Linked DNA regions of Homo sapiens: region 1 is linked to region 2. Evidence: fine-mapped expression QTL. A gene starts in region 2. The other region holds a variant in brackets. All regions are shown on one strand. Distances are from middle to middle.

Region 1 (4,393 bases), 55 kb after region 2:
ACTCTGACTAGTGTGAGATGCTATCTCACTGTGGTTTTGATTTATATTTCTCTCATGATTAGGATGTTGAGCATTTTTTCATATGCTTGTTGGCTGCTTGTATGTCTTCTTATAATTTAATAGTTTTCTGTATGGCCATTTACATGACCAATTTTTGTACGTATTTGGTGACTATTAGAGAAGAATACACAGTCTCTGTAGAGTTTAAATTTTTATGAATTATTCAATTCTTCTAATCCTTTCTTAGTTTGTATCTATTTGGTAAACTCTGAAAGAAATATTTAAAAAATCTCTCTCGAGGATTGCATTTTTAAAACTAAGCTTTCCTTATATTACCAGGGTGCTTTTTTTTTTATTATATTTTGCCATATGTTGTTTGATGCATATAAAGTTTGTAGCTGTTCTACGTTCTTTGTCATTTTTTCCTTTTTTTCTCATGTACCTGTTCCTTCTATGTAATAATAGCTTTTGGCCTTAAATCATGCTTTATCTCATAATAACATTCTAAGTCTTATTTTGTATTTTTTTTTCATTTGCCTGGTTCATATCTGCCCATTCTGTTATTCAGTATCTTTCTTTATCAGCCTCTCCTTGTCTTTGATAGGACAATTCAAATCATTTGTATTTATTACAGTAATATATATGTGCTATTATTCACTTCCATCTTATTTAATATTTGCTATTTATTAAAGTTTGTGGTTTTCTCCTTTTTCCTTTTTAACTTTATTTCCTATCTCTAGAAAGTTATATATTCATCTCCATCCTGCTGACAGTTACATTCCAATTTTTTGTGTGTTGTTTTTTTGAGATAGGGTCTCTGTCTCCCAGGCTAAAGTGCAGTGGAGTGATCTTGGCTCACTGCAGCCTTTACCTCCCCAGCCCAAGTGATCCTCCCACCTCAGCCTCCCAAGTAGTTGGGACTCCAGATGTGTGCCTCCATGCCTGGCTTGCTTATTTATTTATTTATTTATTTATTTATTTATTTATTTATTTTTGTAAAGATGGGGTTTTTCCGTGTTTCCCAGGCTGGTCTCGAACTCCTGGGCTCAAGCAATCTGCTCGCTTTTGCCTCCCAGAGTGCTGGGATTAGAGGCATGAGCCAGTGCACCGGGCCTGCTTTCCAATATTTAACAATGATTGTTAAATATATATTTGCCTACTGCTGTGTAAAAAGTAAACATTAACCGTGCCTCAATCTTCCATTAAGAAATTCTTCCCTGATGAGAGGAAGCTTTTGGACTTCATCTTCTACAGCCGCCATCCTCAAATTCTGAGTTTTGCTGAGATGACTTATAAGTTTATTTCTAGGCCTTTGTTAAGTTTTGCCCTATGGTATGTCTCTTACATTCAAATTCCCAATTGACCATCTCCATTTAGATTTAACCAAAAATTACTGCATTCATTGTTCACCATAGTTTCTTACACCCTTCAGCTTCCCTATGTTGCGCTTTTACTCTGATTTCATTTTCATTTGGTTGGAGTACTTCCTGGAGCATATTCCTCAGAAGGGCACATAGGTGGGACTTCTTTTGTCCTGGCAGATGAATTATACCCTTGGACATAAGATCTTTTTTTCTTCAGTAGTCGTTAAACTCTGTTCTGGTGGAGATGAAAAGTTGGATCCCAATCTGATCCACTTCTTAGATGCCCTAGGTCCTGTAGCCCAGCAAAGTTGAGACAAAATGATGGTGTTACCAGGAAAAAAAGCAAGGCAGTGGCTCATTCTAGCCAGTCAGGTGGAGAGAACCCATCTCTGAAACTTCTCAGATAGAGAGCAGGGCTTCAAAATAGGAAATATTATTAATCTTAAAAATTATTATTTATTTCATCATACTTCTCAGCAACAAAATTATGGCTATATAAATTGAAATTCACATCTTTTATTTTCTATGATCACAGGGCTCCAAGCTTTAGACATTTCTTCAATATCAAATTACCATTAGGGCCAGGCACGGTGGCTCACACCTGTAATCCCAGCATTTTGG[G/A]AGGCCAAGGTGGGTGGATCACCTGAGGTCAGGAGTTTGAGACCAGCCTGGCCAACATGGCAAAACCCCATCTCTGCTAAAAATACAAAAATTAGCTGGGTGTGGTGGTGGATGCCTGTAGTCCCGGCTATTCAGGAGGCTGAGGCAGGAGAATCACTTGCCCGGGAGGCAGAGGTTGCAGTGAGCCGAGATCACGCCACTATACTCCAGCCTGGGAGACAGAGTGAGACTCCATCTCAAAAAAACAAGATAATTAGGAACTTTTGACCAAAGCAACATATATATATTATATAATTTGAAAAACAGTTATTAAATATAAGCAAGGTACTGGTGTTTTTCTATTTTAATGAGGTAGATAGGCCTGGTTTTTAGTTAGCTTATATATTCTTTATGATTATGAATTTTTAAAAAACCATTTTTCAGCAGTTGCTAGAATGAGATACAGTTTATTTTCAGTTATGTGTCAAATTCTTTTTTATTGATGTAAACTCTGAGTTTTATTCACATAAATAAGAATATAGAAATACAAGTTGTATTGTTATAGCAATATTTCTCAATTATTTTAATTTTTTCTGAATTCTATGCCAGAAAATCACATATTGATCAGTTGTCATTAATTGGGTCAATTTTATTAAAAACAAAGAACTGAAAACAACCTGGGGTTTCTTTCCCAATTATGGAATCACTTGCCTTCTCAACATTGATGCTGTGATATCTCAGATTTTATGGCTCCATGCATTGGTTCAGTATGGTTTATTAATAATGGGTCACTTTCTCTGCGCGTTCTTAGGTGATCAGTTTTAGGAAAAGGTATGCCTAGAAGTTAAGGATCTGAGAATTGATGTCCTTAATCATGCCTGTTTGTTGTTGTTGTTGTTGTTGTTCTTTTTTTTGGTTTTTTCTTTTTTTTTTTTTTTTTTTTTTTTGAGAGAGTCTCCCTCCATCGCCTAGGCTGGAGTGCAGTGGTGTGATTTCGGCTCACTGCAACCTCCACCTCCCTGATTCAAGCAATTCTCCTGCCTCAGTCTCCTGAGTAGCTGGGACTACAGGTACACACCACTATGCCCAGCTAATTTTTGTATTTTTAGTCAAGGCAGGGTTTCACCATGTTGGCCAGGCTGGTCTCGAACTCCTGACCTCAAATGATCCACCCACCTCGGCCTCCCAAAGTGCTGGCATTACAGGCGTGAGCCACCGAACCCAGCCAATCATGCCTGTATATACTGAAAATCTTGGCAGGGCGCAGTGGCTCATGCCTGTAATTCCAGCACTCTGGGAGGCTGAGGCAGGAGGATCACTTAAGCCCAGTAGTTTGAGACCAGCCTGGGCAACATGTCGAAACCCTGCCTCTACAAAAATTACCAAAAAATTAGCTGGGCTTGATGACACATGCCTGTAGTACTGGCTTCTTGGGAGGCTGAGGTGGGAAGATCACTTGAGCCCAGGACGTCAATGCTGCAGTGAGCCGTAAGCCATGATCACACCACTGCACTCCAGACTGAGCAACAGAGCGAGACCCTGTCTCAAAGAAAAGAAAAGCATCTTTGTGTATTTCCATAGTACAAAACTCCCAATTTGCAGACCTTTTGCCATAGAGCAGGAATCAGCAGTGTTTTTTCTGTAAAGCTCCAGATAGTAAATGTTTTCAGCTTTGTGGGCCATATCTTCTCTGTTCCAACTATTCAGCCCCACTGGGGTAGCAGGGAAATAGCCACAGTCAATATTCAGGGCAGTGGGCGTGGCTGTGCTTCGATAAAATTCCATTCATAGGCATTGAGATTTCAGTTTCATAAAATTTTCACCTCACAAAATTTAATTTTCTTTTGATTTTTGTTAACCAGTTAAAAATGTGAAAACCAGACCAGTCACAGTGGCTCACACCTGTAATCCCAGCACTATGGGAGGCCGAAGCAGACAGATCACTTGAGGTCAGGAGTTCGAGACCAGCCTGGGCAACATGGTGAAACCCTGTCTCTAGCAAACACACAAAAAAGTAGCCAGGTGCAGTGGCGTGCACCTTTGGTCCCAGTTACTTGGGAGGCTGAGGTGGGAGGATCGCTTGAGCCCAGGAGGCAGAGGTTGCAGTGAGCCGAGATTGTGCCACTGCCCTCCAACCTGGGTGACAGAGTGAGACCCCATTTCAAAAAAATATAAAAATAACAATAAAAATGTGAAAACCATTCCTAGCTCACAGACCATACAAAAAAAAGTGGTCCGTAAGTTCAAATTAGATTGAATTTGTATTTTATGGCTTCTCTTTATGTTGGAATGGAGAATTCTGTTTAAAAATTAGACCTTCTGTAGGATTTTTTACTGTTGTTATTGTTGTTGTTGTTATCGGCATGTGATTAAACAAACATATGAAACCCCTTCCTGGAACGTTCCAAGTCACTGTGTTTCCTATCGTG
Region 2 (4,393 bases):
TAAATATATTAAATATTATATATTAAATATATATATATTTACAGTACTGATTTGATTATTTCATGTTGACTGCCTCCCTGGTCTACCTCCAGCAGCTAGCCCAGTGCCTGGCACTTCACAAACACTTGAGAATAAACAGCTGCTGCAGGCAGAAACCAAGCCTTAGAGGCAGCAGCAGGGAAAATCCCATTCATTATACAAGCCATATTTACTAAGCCTACTATGTGTCAGGCACCAGCCAAGTCACTGGACTACATCAGTGAAGCAAAGAGATTTTTTTAATCCCCATTTTTACAGGGACTTACTGAAAATAAGGGGGAGGAGAACACAGATAATATACAACTAAATTATATCTAAGCAGATATACTCGAGATACATAATATGTTCCATCTAACACCTTTTAAGGACAAAGCAGGCCAGGCATGGTGGCTTACACCTGTAACCCCAGCACTTTGGGAGGCTGATGGAGGATCGCTTGAGGCCAGGAATTCGAGACCAGCCTGGGCAACATCTCTACAAAAATAAAAATTAAAAAGTGAGCCAGGGTGGTGGCCCACGCCTGTAGGGGGGATTGCTTGAGCCCAGGAGTTGGAGGCTGCAATGAGCTAGGATCCGACCACTCTTCCAGCCTGAGAGACAGAGAAAGACCCCCTCTCTAAAAAAAGAAAGGGAGAAAGAGAGAGAGGCAGAGAGAGAGAAAGAAAGAAAAGAAAAGAAAAGAAAAGAAAAGAAAAGAAAAGAAAAGAAAAGAAAAGAAAAGAAAAGAAAAAGAAAAAGAAAAAAACAGGAAGGAGACAGGGAGTGGTTGGGGGAGGAGGAGGGGGCTGCAATATTAGAATGATTAGATTAGGCCAAGCATGGCCTCCCTGAGTGTGAATTTGAATGCTGACCTTCAGAAGCAGGACAGACTCTATGGGCAAATCCCTCGAGGCTGGGAGAGGTCTGAGGCTTGGGAGGGTCGGCAGAGAGACAATAGGGCTGACGCAGGAGCCCGGGGGAGACAGTAGTAGTAAGACATGAGGGACAGAGCAGAGAGGTCACTGTCCTCAGAGTGTGGACGCCGACCAACACTAGGGGCATCACCTGGGAACTTAGAAATGCTCGTTCTCACGCCTCGCCCCAGACCTACTGAAGCAGAAACGCTAGGGTGGGCCCAACAGCGTGTGTTCTAACAAGCCTTTCAGGCGACTGCGATGCACGATAAAGTTGGCAGCTCCTGGAGCAGGGGTCCCTCCGCGCTACGACCCCACCTCTTCGCGGTCCTCTCAGTCTCCCTAGCGGGGCAAGGGACCCGCCCAGCGCTTTGCTGATTTGCCCAGCGCTCACGCCCAACCTGGGTTTCTCCGGAGCTCGCCGCGCCCCGCGCACCCACCCCGCAACGGCAGCCGCACGTGGGTCTCCCCGCAAACCACCCAGGCGTCCCGGGAGCAGCGCTGCTGCACGGCCGCGCTGGGGGCCCAACGCCTGGGGTTGCAGGTGCAAAAGGCGCCCCGAGCCGGGGAGGCCAATCGCGTCCGCGGAGAACGCAGAGTGCGGGCAGGGGCGCATCCCTCGCCACCCGCGGTCGCCCAGCACGCCGGGACGCGCGTGGCCATCCAGCTCCCCGGGGGCGTTGGGGGGCTCCGCGGGCCTGGGCCTCGGGATTCGCCCGCCGCTTCCCCGGGGAGCCGCTGCTGCAAAGCCAGGTTGGGGCGCCGGGCCCGGCCAGCGCCCTCTAGGCAGCGGAAGTGCAGCTTGCTTTACATCCGTCCTCCCCGCCTCGCAGAGTTGGGAGAAGGCAGGGTGGGGGGTGTGGAAAAATAAAAGGAAAAGTCCTTGCACCATGTAGATCAGCGTCCCCCACTTTGGCATCCCGGCCGGCCGGGGACCTCCCAGTCTGCGGCCATGAACGCGAGCAGCGAGGGCGAGAGCTTCGCGGGCTCGGTGCAAAGTAAGTGCTTTTCCGGGAGCAGTGCGCGCTCCGGGGCCCAGTGCGCGCTCCGGGGCCCGGGCCCAAGCACGTCTGCGACGCAGCCAGCAGGCCCGGGGCCCCGAAATCGGGGTGACGGCTCGGAGCCGCGTCTCGGGGACCGCGGCGGGCGCGCTGTGCAGGGGGCGCCGGAGTGGGCTTGGGGTGGGGGCGCACCCGACCTGGCGCAAGACCGGGGGCGCTCTCCAGCCTTGCGAGACCCCTTGGAAGGGAACAGTGGGGGAGGGCACGCCGTTCAGACAATCGCCACCCCCTAAGGGCATTCCCGCCCCATCAGGCGGAGTTTGGGGCGGGCAGGAGAAAGGGAGGAATCTAGGGTAAACGGGGCAACACTGATGGGAAAACTTCTGCCTCAGTGGCTCAAAATTAGAGCCTGGAGATTGGGGGAATCACCAGGTCTCACGAGGTCCTGCCGGCTCATTGCAAAGCCTTTTCCTCATTAAGGGTGGAGATCTGAATGGAAAACGGGGCCGTGGTCGCTTTATTTGGGTTTGGGGTTCAGTTTTTATTTAACCGAGGAGGACATCAGCGTTTTTCAAGTCCCTGGTTTCTCCCGGTGCATTGTTTCCCAAAGTGTGGTCCAGAGACTGAGTGCAACCAGCCACCTGGGAGCGAGAGCGTGTATTTTAAAACAGCTTTCTGGGCCCCACCCATTCAATCTCGGGGGTGGGGCTGGGGATCCGCTGTCCTTCGTAGCTGCCTGGGCAACTCTGAAGCACATGAAGTTTGAGAACCCATCTACCAGGGGTTTGCAGAAAATCTGGCACATAGTAAGCTCCCAGCTTGTTAGCTGCTACTGTTAACAGTTTGGGAGACACTGGGTCCCAAACTTGGCGGTGTATTCCTTGCATTACTGTGAAAAGCACAGATTTTCCTAAACACCATCCTCCCCACCCCACCCTGTTATGACTCAGTATCTCCTAGGTGGGGCTCAGATATGTCCATGTTTAAATAGTGTACCTCAGTAAGAACCCAGCAGGTAACATGCTGGGGGACTGGCGGGGAGGGGGGACTGTGCTGGTACGAGCACCATCCCATTTAATTCTCATAACAAGCCCGTGTTTTTTCTTGGAGAAATTAAAAACAAACAAAAACCATGGATTAGAAACCTCTCCTCCCATTTTTCAGATGAGAAAACCCACGCTTAAAGTCACTGTTGTTAAGCGACAGTGTCAAGATTCTAACGAAGGTCTATGTCGTTACTTTTGCACTTTCCACATACCAGTGACATTATCTGTTATGAAAATCCTTTCATTCTGGGTGTCAGTCCTATTCCATCATTAAGGAATCGTCAGCAATGCAAGCTACTTCATGTCTCACTTCCTTGTTTCCTTGTTAGTTCCATGGGTATCTCAGTATCTGCCAGAGAAGAAAAGGTTTCCTTCCTTCCATCCATTGATTGCAAAGTGCTTAAGTGTATCCCTGCAAGATGGCTTATCACAGTGCTCAGCCCAGTCTCCTTAGCAAGTCAACCAAACTGTATTTCTGAACAGAGATTTCTTGTCTTAGCTAGACCTGGGGAAAATTGGACATAATGTAAATATCTTACAAATTTTCAGAAAATTATGAGGCATAATTTTATCTAACCATATATGCACAAAGGTAGTCTTGTATCATTTAACTTGGGAAAAATTGGAAATTATGTAAATACCTTATTGTTGCTGAGAAGATTATGACGCATGGACACCATGGAATAATGTATTGCCATTAAATAATCATATATATATGAAGAGATTTTAATGATATAGCACAATGTTTATGCAATGTTTAGGAAAAAGGGCCAGGCACGGTGGCTCACGCCTGTAATCCTAGCACTTTGGGAGGCTGAGGCGGGCGGATCACATGAGGTCGGGAGTTCAAGACCAGCCTGACCAACATGAAGAAACCCCATTTCTACTAAAAATTCAAAATTAGCCTGGCGTGGTGGTGGCGCTTGTAATCCCAGATACTCCGGAGGCTGAGGCAGGAGAATCGCTTGAACCTAGGAGGCGGAGGTTGCAGTGAGCTGAGATCGTGCCCTTGCACTCCAGCCTGGGCAACAAGAGCAAAACTCCATCTCAAAAAAAAAAAGGAAAAAAATTAGGAAAAGGATTAGTTTTACAATACTATGATCTGAATATTTACAATATTATGATCTTATGCAATTTTTTTTTTTTTTGAGATGAAGTCTCGCTGTCACCAGGCTGGAAGTTCAGTGGCATGATCTTGGCTCACTGCAACCTCCACGTCCCAGGTTCAAGCAATTCTCCTGCCTCAGCCTTCTGAGTAGCTGGGATTACTGGCACGTGCCACCACACCCAGCTAATTTTTGTATTTTTAGTAGAGACGGGGTTTCACCATGTTCGCCAGGATAGTCTTGATCTCTTGTTGTGATCCACCCATCTCGGCTTCCCAAAGTGCTGGGTTACAGGCGTGAGCCATCTT

The links. PIP is the estimated chance that this variant, and not a neighbour inherited with it, causes the effect. A credible set is the group of variants that fine-mapping cannot tell apart.
Region 1: its variant is the best candidate, but not a certain one, in a credible set for the expression of ZFP64 in whole blood (TOPMed, PIP 0.68).

The regions. Positions count from the first base shown.
Region 1 is chr20:52,134,615-52,139,007 of GRCh38, reverse strand. It overlaps a transcript of ZFP64 not described here. Among named protein-coding and RNA genes, the nearest start is that of ZFP64, 55 kb to the left of the region's middle. The variant G/A (reference allele first, on the strand shown) is at 1,986.
Region 2 is chr20:52,189,128-52,193,520 of GRCh38, reverse strand. It overlaps ZFP64 (ZFP64 zinc finger protein), which reads left to right and starts at 1,742. Exons shown (of 6, transcript NM_018197.3): 1 at 1,742-1,930. The coding sequence starts at 1,885. RefSeq lists enhancers at 861-990, 2,031-2,887 and silencers at 1,401-1,670, 2,031-2,270.